Regions from separate parts of the Homo sapiens genome. Here region 1 is linked to region 2. The links come from fine-mapping of genetic effects on gene expression. Tissue or cell type: tibial nerve. Region 2 holds a variant in brackets; the other region holds the start of a gene. All regions are shown on one strand. Distances are between the middles of the regions.

Region 1 (5,395 bases), 170 kb after region 2:
TTTAATTAGATCCCATTTGTCAATTTTGGCTTTTGTTGCCATTGCTTTTGGTGTTTTAGACATGAAGTCCTTGCCCATGCCTATGTCCTGAATGGTAATGCCTAGGTTTTCTTCTAGGGATTTTATGGTCTTAGGTCTAACGTTTGAGTCTTTAATCCATCTTGAATTGATTTTTGTATAAGGTGTAAGGAAGGGATCCAGTTTCAGCTTTCTACATATGGCTAGCCAGTTTTCCCAGCACCATTTATTAAATAGGGAATACTTTCCCCATTGCTTGTTTTTCTCAGGTTTGTCAAAGATCAGATAGTCGTAGATATGCGGCGTTATTTCTGAGGGCTCTGTTCTGTTTTATTGATCTATATCTCTGTTTTGGTACCAGTACCATGCTGTTTTGGTTAGTGTAGCCTAGAAGACATGATTGTATATCTAGAAAACCCCATTGTCTCAGCCCAAAATCTCCTTAAGCTGATAAGCAACTTCAGCAAAGTCTCAGGATACAAAATCAATGTACAAAAATCACAAGCATTCTTATATACCAACAACAGACAAACAGAGAGCCAAATCATGAGTGAAATCCCATTCACAATTGCTTCAAAGAGAATAAAATACCTAGGAATCCAACTTACAAGGGATGTGAAGGACCTCTTCAAGGAGAACTACAAACCACTGCTCAAGGAAATAAAAGAGGATACAAACAAATGGAAGAACATTCCATGCTCATGGGTAGGAAGAATCAATATCGTGAAAATGACCATACTGCTCAAGGTAATTTACAGATTCAATGCCATCCCCATCAAGCTACCAATGACTTTCTTCACAGAATTGGAAGAAACTACTTTAAAGTTCATATGGAACCAAAAAAGAGCTCGCATTGCCAAGTCAATCCTAAGCCAAAAGAACAAAGCTGGAGGCATCACACTACCTGACTTCAAACTATACTATAGTCAGGATTTTAAAGAAAGGACAGAAAAAGACAGAATTTTCCATATAGGGAGGGACAATATGGATAAATGGGAGGAGATGCTAATAGTATGTTGTTTAGGGATGATGGAAAAAGATAAGAATGAACAAAGATAAAGAAACTGCAAATGTGTACACTGTTTCCAAAAGTAGTAATGGCAGGAATACTTTTTGTGTTGCATTGTAGTATCTTGTATTGATGGAAATCTCTAGATCTAGTTTATGGTGTACCCAGTGTGAACCTGGCTGAGATATTTGACTCTCAAAGTCTCCTCCTCCAAAGTAGACCAGTTCCACTTTGGGCTTAAAGTGATGGGAAGCTGAGGCAAGACAGAATGAAGGCCCTGAGATGGCAACCAAAACCTCCACAAACAGCAGGAAAAAATGGAAAATGGGGAACAGAATAAAGGCAGAGACACACCCGTCTCTGCTTGTCCTTCTACCTGGATCCCAAGGGGCTACCTCTCCACTCTGAAAACCAAAGAATCACCTCTAAAGAAATTTGTATGTGTATGAGGATCAACCTACAGAACTTAGCACTGTAAAATATTGTTGAAGTGGAAACTGGAAACCACATTCATTTTATTTAAATCTAAAATAGAGAATTATATTTTTCTCAGGATTTTGTATTGGATTTAATGGGTTTTGTTTTTTGTTTGTTTGTTTGATTTTTTGGTAAATCCTGGATAGCTTGGAAGATCTACATATGATGAACATGTGCTTTTTTTTCTGGTTTGTAAAATCGAAGAAATAACATTTTTATTCTTTCTCTTTCCATCCCCTGACTAGATTAGTATTGCTCATTAACACTGTTCTGGAGCTGTAGTTAGTTCTGAGGTGGTATTTGAGTATGGTGTGTGGGCACTCATGCAGGTTTATCTGCTGAAGTTGCTTGCATTCCTAGTGGCAAGTGGAAGCAAAGCTTACATGGGAGAGTCTTCTGGTTGCTGTGCTCTGCCTACTTCTTATAGTAAGGCCTCATTGCTATTGGCAGTGAAAGGTACTGCCAGACTTTATCCAAAATATTAGTCTAAGCATCACAACTACACAGGATATTCATGTACACAATTAGTACACTGGAAATATAGTTTTCTTAAATCACCCTATATAGATTTCTCCTACCTTTCATGAAAAGTACTTTAACTTCTCTCTGGGGCTCAATAGCTTCCCTGCCCTCAGGCTGTGTTCTTTCAATGTGGCCGATCCCACTCCAGTTCCAGACATGGGCATAAGACTTAAGCCCAAGCCAAGAAACACATTTCATTCCCTTGACTATAAACATTGTGGTGAGGGTAGTTATGAAATCACAGTGGGGCCAGTTTGAACCAATCAGAGGAGAGATTGATCAGAAAAGAGAAAGATTTTTTTTAATTGCTATTTCTCTTCTTTTTTCCTGGATTTAATCCTGCATAGAGTAGGAGAACCTATCTGAGAATGAGGCCAGCACACATAATGGGAGAAGATGACTGGAGATAAATTTCATGGATGATATCATTTGACTACTAAGTCAAGCTATGCATGAGGATAAATGTTATCTTGGACTTTTTTAAGTTTTATTACAAAATATAGTCTTATTATACTTTTGGCATCAAGAACATTTATTTGTTTGCATATTTTCATTTTCCACTTATGAGTGTCCTGATGCTAATTTTTAATAATAAAATGCATTTGCTTCTTCCAAAGTTTATTAGACATTTCAGCAATATGACATCATTCTTTTGGCTAGATATCAGTACACAGTACCATTTTACTTTAGTTCCAAATCCTTTCCATCTCCTTCATGTATTTTTCTAGTGAATGACCTATAAACAAACATGTATAGTGAAAAGACTGCCACTTAAAGGGCTTCTTTGTTTAATCTCAACACACAGATTGTTTTGAAAGTTGAGTTTTGTCATCTAATACATTACTATGGTAAAATATGGCTTTCATATGCTTGATTTTCTAAAGCATGTATTCACCTATAAGATATTCTCATTCTTGAGTCCTACTTGGTCTACTGATGCTTGGTCCACTGGTTTTAGTATAAAACTAAAGACATTAGGTATTATTAAAATATAATAATACCAACTTATTGAAAGATAACGCCTCCCCTCCCCTCTTCTCTCCTCTCCTGCCCTTCCTTCCTTCCTTCCTTCCTTCCTTCCTTCCTTCTTTCCCTCCTTCCTTCCTTCTTGTGAGGGTGGGGTATTGAAGGGATAAAATGCCCAGAGGAAAACTCCAAGATGGGATGGGAGACATAGGTCCAATATATCAGAAGGTTAAATTGAGTGGGCTTATGAGAGAAGCAGGAGAAAGGGAGGCTAGAGAGCCAATAAAACAAAGTTCATAGTGATAACTGGAACAGAATAGACCTCAAAGGCTTAAAGATGTCAAAGTCCCTGCATTTTTTCCTACCTTCAGAATCTACCACCTTCAGTCATGGAGAAGTCTTGATGAAGTTACCCAATCTATAACAATTCTATGCTGTGCATGCTGATTGAATTATCTTCATCAATGCATTCTGTTTTGCTTTTATCTTTTGCAGGTAACACAGTTTCTCACTCATTGAAGCTCCTCCAACATTTCTAGAAATATGGAGTACAAAAAGAATACGTAGGTTTTGTTAATTCTATAGATTGAATTAGAACTCCCAAATGATTTTTCAAATGAATATCCCCTCTCAAATCATTTAACTTTTTAAAGAGGTAATTTCACTCTCCAATTAGTATTTTCTAGTAATTGTACTTAAATGTCTCATAAAGTGCTCAGTAAATGTTACTTCAGCTTTTACTACCTCTTGCTAGAAACAGTTTCTCTTCTTTTTTATTAGGAACCAGCATCCTAACTAACCAGCTCCTTCAGAATGAGTTTACTAAAGGATATATTTTCTAAGGAATATCCACATTGTATATTTAGGGTTCATGCCAAGCTGTTATTGTTGTATGCCTTAACTGATTACTAAGGATTTATTGCTAGCCACTTCAAACACATACTCGGTAGTGTCCTCTCCATTGGCCAACCTGTTTCTCCGACCTTCCATCTACTTGAAAACATCCATGACTGTACATGACTCTATCAATTCCCTGGGCAGGGGTTGGGGGGATTTACTGATATATGTTCTTTTGCTATTTATTGAATCCTCTCATTTTGTTTAGTATTGTCCTGGATGTTACAGAGGATGTAATGACTAACCACATAAGAATACTGTCCTCAAGAAATATACAGTCTAATAGAAAGAAATGAAGACCAATAATTTGGGATCAGTTCTGGAAGGGAGAAAGTCAAAACAGGTCTTACAGTATAAATTGAAGGTGTGAGCAGGGTTGTGTTCTGTCTGGAGTTTCTAGGGTAGAATTGGTTCCTTGGCCTTTCTAGCTTTGAGAGGCTGCCCACATTCCCTGGTTCTCAATCTCACACTCTGACCTCCACTTATATTGTCACATCTCCTTTGCTAACTCTGACCCATACACCTTATAAGGACCCCTGTGATTACAATGGGCCCACTGGCTAATCTGCAATAATCTCCCTATCTCAAAATCTTTAATTTAATTACATCTGCAAAGCCTTTTTTGTCATGTAAAGCAACATATTTATAAGTTCTAAGATTAAGACATGAATATTTTTGTGGTGGGGACAATATTCTGCCTGTCATAGTCTCTATGTTGTTAGTGAAATAAAAATGCTCACGGAGCCATTTAGAAAAGGCCTATCACCTCCAAACTCGCCTTTCCATCACTTTTGAACAGTAGGTGGATTGTACCACCTAAATGTTTCCTGGATTCATCCTATAAAAGTCCCTTACTGGAAGCCACACACTGAAGAACAGAGTCAGAAGTTGAGTCATAAAACCAACTTGCTTACTATGGAAAGGATGAAGCCCAAATCATATTAAGTTACCAGCTGAAAATCACAAGGATATGTAGCTGTTACATGACATGGCCTTTTCACATGTGTGAATATAAATTTATATGAATCTAAAAACATATAAAATCTTTCAGTGAAGAAATGAATCAATCAATAAATATATTATCTTTATCTTCTTCTTTTCCCCTGTTCTTTCCCAGGACCTTAATCAAGCACCTATTTTGGGACAAGCACCACTGAGAATACAATGGCAGAAGACCATCTTACCCTCAAGAAACATTGCACTCACAGAGAAAAAATAAGACAAAGTGCAGACTCTGTCTATGGCAAGAAATATAAAGAAAACTATGTTTCATGTGAGTTCAGAACAGAGAGAAATCACTTCATCATCTCATAATGTTACTGGTGAAGAGATCGAAGTTACGCCGAGTTACTGGCTGCGAATCCCTATACATCTGCAGCATCTTGAATTCTTGCCTCCTCAGAAGAAAGAATTTGACTGAGGGGCATAAAGCAGAAAAAGAGACTGAGATGAGTTCCAGAGCAGTAGTAGAAGTTTGTTTAAAAGGCCTTAGAACAGAAAAGAAAG
Region 2 (5,395 bases):
ATTCTAATTGCTCTTTCTATACCACTTCCCACATCTTCTCAGTCTCTCACATCAAGCCCCAACTCAAATCCTATTTCCTGAGATACTTGCATGCAGGATAAATTTGAAGAAAGCGGGATGCAAGAGAAGAAAATTAATGGAGGAGCATCCTTCATTACTAATTTATTTATTCATTCCTAATTGAACAAACAAACCTTTTTTTAAAAGTCCTCAGGAATTTGTTGGTATACAGGACTGATAATTTAATGGACTGGACAGAAAACTTTGATTCCCTCAATTTTTTAACGTGAAAAAGAAAACCTTGTTATGGAACAAACACATAGTCTTTTATGACAACTGAGCCATATTAAGATATTTCAAGAAAGGGTGGGTATGCATCAGAAATGATTTTGGTAGTAACAGACTTGGTGGATAGAACTGGCTTAGCAATTTTATCCAGTAATTCAATTATTCATCAATTCTCTTGACTTAACTCATATAAAGTTTATAGCAGCCATTGATTCACATACTTTTCTTGACCATCAGCATTAATAATGTACACCTCATTCAGGAAGCTTCAGAGAGATAGCCAGATGATACAAGGGTTCAGGAGTAGCAGCTCATCTCTGTGCTACCATGAGAAGATCATGAGTTTATTGTGGACCTCACCAACCTTGAGAATGGCTTTGCTCAAGAATATGCTGGCCCATGTATCTGATCAACACGTTCTCCTCCTCAGGGAAAGTTCATAGCACAAGTCCTTACTCCTGTACTTCTGCTCAGAATGACTTGTAGGGTTAAGCACGGGATTTGTTATTTGACATCCAGGGCAGACACTGTAGGGAACCCCAAGGTTATTCAGCACACAGGACTCAGTCAGGCAACAAGAGTTATTCATATCAGGGGCTTCTGTATGGTCATCATTGATTTAAAATCCTGCAGTAAGGCCAGAAGCCAGATGCCATAGACTGAATGCTTTTGTTCCCCTCAATTTCACATATTGAAATTCTAACTCCCAACGTGATTGTATTGGGGGGGGGGGGGGGCGGGTGGCGCATTGGCAGTTGATTAGATCACGAAGGTAGAGCCCTCATGAATGGCATTAAGTGCCTTTATAAAGGAGACCCTGGAGGACTCCTTCACCCCTTCTGCCATGTAAGGCTACAGAAAGTTGATGTCTGTGAACCAGCAAGGGAACCCTCATCAAACGCCAAATCTGCCAGCACTGTGATCTCAGACTTCCCAGCCTCCAGAACTCTAAAAAATCAATGTCTGTCATTTATAAGGCACTCTGTCTATGGTACTTTGTTATAGCAGCCCAAATTGACTAAGACATCAAAGAAAATCATAGACTATATTCTCATGAGCAAGTGTAGCCAAGCTGAAAGTAAGTGCATATGTGGACACACAAACACATGCACACACAAAATTACCCTCAGCGGTACTGGAGGCTCCATCTACCTTGCAAAGTACAAACAAAAGCAGAGTCGAACAGCATTTCCTCTTCCTTACTGGCAACTCCACATCCCGCATCCCTGACTTTCCCCTATCATAATGCATAATGCCATTATCCACTCAACTGCCATTGCTGGAAACATGAGCATTTTCCTCCTTGAGTGTTCTTTTCCCCACCTTCCTTTCTAGATTCCCCAAGATCACTAAAATATATCCTACAATCTATATCAAATCTTCTTTAATCTATGTCAATGCATGTTAATATTTCACTTGCTAATGCTGCCAACCAAAATTTCGTACCTAGATTGTCCTTCTAAATGCTCTCTTCACCTCCATTCTAGGATATCTGTATTTTCAGGTTGTTTCATAAGACATTTGCTGATTTCTGAGGATGCATGGGAGCACAATCTGAGTAGACAGCCGAACAGTCATCTAAAATGTTGTAATAGTTTTATTGCACACACACAGCAAAAATATTTCAAAATAGCACAGGCAAATATAAAAGGAACAGTTAAAAATTTCTTCATGATCTAGGAGAGAGGTGAACAAACTTCTCCTGTAAAGGGCCAGATCGCAAAGATTCTAGGCTTTGTGGAACATACGGTCACTATTATAGCTACTCAACACTGCTGTTACAGCCCAGAAACATCGATAGACAATACGTAAAAAAACAAATGAATGTGGCTGTGTTCCAATAAAACTTTATTAAAAAAACAAGCGGCAAACCAAATTTGCCCCGCAGGACATAGTTTGCCCACTCCTGTACTAGACCATCAGTCTTATGGCCCAAATTAACAATTGTTAACAGTTTCTTGTAAAACACATTGCTGTTTGAGTAAGTCTTTTAAGCAGCCCCAGCTAAACAAAATGTAGCTTTTACAGACAGCAAGAATACACAATGGTTTACCTGTGCTATTTTTTTTCAAAGAGGGAAAAATGACAAAATCACTTTTTCTATAAAGAAGAGAAGTACAATGTGGCTTGGGTACATACCAATTACCTTTTGTTCAGTGGCTCTGGAGAGTCAAAAAAGGACAAAGATTCAAGGTTTTGGCTACCACAACTATTCAACATGAGTTCTAAACTACAGGTTTTTTTTTTTTTTTTTTTTTTTTTTTTTACCAGAAATGAAATTGCCAATACTAGTTTGATGCTTGGATAAGCATGTAAAGTATCTAACCCACCTGATGGCAAAAATCACAGCATAAGCCCTAACGAGAACCCTGGCATTCTGTGGTTTGACCTAGAAATTTAACCACTACAGCAAATACTGTTTCAAAGGTAACATGCATTCTGAGCCAAACAAGAAAAAAAGAAAAAAAGAAAAAAAGTTTGAAAATTCAGGAGCCACATGAATACACCTTTGCAAAAAAACTGTGGGTGGCCTGTGCCCTGCAATCTGGTGCACATTTCGTGGGTAATTGAATAGCGCAGTGTAGCATCTGTGAATCAAAAATTCAGAACTTCCACCAAATGTAGAAAAGTGTATTAGTATATTAG[G/A]AAAAATTGTGACTATAAGCTCATGTTCCACTTTGGTACTTTTTAAAAATATTGATTACAAGTTCTCCATGGTCATTGCCTTTCTTTTCTGTGATTCTTTTTGTATCTCTGAATCTCCATGTTTCTGACTTACTATCTGTTTCTGACTTTGTCTTTTCTCTTTCTTCATCTCTCGGTATCTCAGTATCTGTCTCTCACCTTCTCCTCCAATTTCCTTTGCCTTAAGATTTTTCCATTTAAGCAGAAGACCATTTAATACCTCACCTCCATGAGTGAGGAGTTACAGGAAGAGTATAAGTGCTTGACTTACTATGTATAATACCTATGGCTAAGTGCATGTGTGTGTACATATATTAATATCTATGCATAGACAGATGAATATCAACCTCAAGCTAATGTCAGATTTAAATTGAAATATATTTATATCTATCTAACCAGCTATCTATGTATGTATCTACTCATTCATATATATTCTCTTTGTTGGAAGCACAGGTCACCAGAATGTCTAAAAACTGTATATGGTCTCGTTGGTGCAAATACCTTCAAATATATCTCTTCTGTAATTAAAAGAAAAAGAAAACTCAAGAAAGGAGTGAAAATATCTGCTATTATACATTCAGAAGAGAAGAGTGATCTTCTTGCCACCTTTGTCATCAAAACCAGCTACCAACCGTAGCAATCAGATACATTTTGTCAAATTTAGTCACCTAAAATTAAGTATAATGAGGCTAAGTTCATCATCCCTTTTTCAGCCTGCAATTATTTAAGAAAATCATACAAGTAGTTTATGTTCATAAAATAATCAGAAAATACAGAAAATTTTTAAGGATAATTGAAACCCTCAGTCATAATGTGGTAACATTTTAGCCACATCTTTCTAGATTTTTACAGCTTCATTTTATTTTACAAAAACAAAAATGTATTCAACAAAATTGAGATCCTTTTATATACCAGATGCCCAATTAGATATTTGAGAGGCATAAGAGAACTCAGACAAAAATTTTTGTCTTAAAGTCTTAATGTTTTTCAAATTTATGATTTTACTTTGTTTTGCTACACATATTTTACAAGCCATTACATATAGATTCTACATTTAATGACTATATAATATTCTCTCATATTCTTGTACAAGGTCATAAGTCTTATTAACTTATGCTTTTCTGCACCAAGAAAAGTTAAAGAAAAACCAGCATAAATTTAGTATTTACTCTGGGCAAATAGTTACAAATGTTGTAAGGGAGATGTGAACAACAAAACAAAACAGCACAATAACAAATACAGTAAGAAATAGCTCCAGCCCTCAAAGAGGAAAAGGGTAAAAAACAGAAAAGGGAGGGAGCACATTATAAAAAGATAGTAATATCACAAGTGATAGAATATATATATTATATATATAAAGTCGGTATTAGATATTGTGATTATCATGATTGTTAATAAAATAACAATAACAAAGTAATAACAATCAACATCTAACATTGGAGTGTTTATTATGTGCCAATCACTATTTTAACTGCTAGATATCTATCAACCTATATGTCTCCTAACAAACTTGTAAGAAGGGTATTTTTTTACATATGATGGCAGAGTCACAAAGTTATCTTCATGAAGTCACTAGGCTAATAAAAGTTGGAGAAAGATTTCATATCTAAGGCATCTGTTTCCAGAGTCATTGCTACTAACCATTACGCTACAGCCAAAAGACTGTACCCCTTTATCCTCACAACGCATACATTATTCATGCGGATATCTAGGTATGACGGTTCCGTGTAACTCATTCCAACTACAAGAATTACTAATCAAGGTGCTTATTTTAACAATAGAAAGATCACTTTCCAGGAAAAGGCATTGTCTCTTCTTGCTAAAGAGCTGGCAGGACATCCTACATGTGCAACAATAAAATCCTGTAGGGAATGGTTTTCAATCTTCAGTATTTGTAAGAATCATCTAGGGAGTTATTAAAACATGAATGTACCTGTTTATTCTCCTGGCCCCTCCAACAGAATACTAATTCTGGAGTCTAAATTTAGGTAATGCAAATACAGGCAAGTGAAGTCCACACTGAATAGCTGGTTTAGCAGCCTATGAGAAAGCCCAGAACTTCCTAGTTCAAAAATCCATCCACTCGGCCAAAGCCAGGGAAAGTCTTTGGCCGACTTTCCCAGGGGGACTGGAGACAGCATTTCCAAACCAGAGTGACAAATCCTCTGATGATTGTAATCAAAAGTGCCAAGAGAATTAAAGAGGTCAACAAGAACTTTTACTTTCCAAACAGGAGAGCCCTACATCAGATGGCCCACGAGTTTGGGTTCTGTTATTCTGGTTAGGAAATGTCACCAGAACCATCAAACTTTTGGCTCAAGGGCACAATCTGATTAGACAGTTACCTGATACCATGCCTTAGTAGCCCTGTCTTGAAACAAGTGTGCACAAATCCATGCTGTCTCTCTAGCCTCAATGGCCA

Which allele goes with the higher level. Positions count from the first base shown, and alleles are read on the strand shown. Sizes are in standard deviations (SD) of each study's normalised expression.
For the expression in tibial nerve of the gene that starts at base 2,194 in region 1, A is the high allele of the variant in region 2 and G is the other (small effect, 0.22 SD a copy in GTEx).

The links. PIP is the estimated chance that this variant, and not a neighbour inherited with it, causes the effect.
Region 1: it holds the start of LINC01435, and the variant in region 2 is the best candidate, but not a certain one, in a credible set for the expression of LINC01435 in tibial nerve (GTEx, PIP 0.79).

The regions. Positions count from the first base shown.
Region 1 is chr10:108,067,100-108,072,494 of GRCh38, forward strand. It overlaps LINC01435 (long intergenic non-protein coding RNA 1435), which reads right to left and starts at 2,194. Exons shown (of 5, transcript NR_125760.1): 1 at 2,083-2,194.
Region 2 is chr10:107,901,348-107,906,742 of GRCh38, forward strand. All of the region lies in intron 4 of LINC01435 (long intergenic non-protein coding RNA 1435), which reads right to left. Among named protein-coding and RNA genes, the nearest start is that of LINC01435, 170 kb to the right of the region's middle. The variant G/A (reference allele first, on the strand shown) is at 2,935.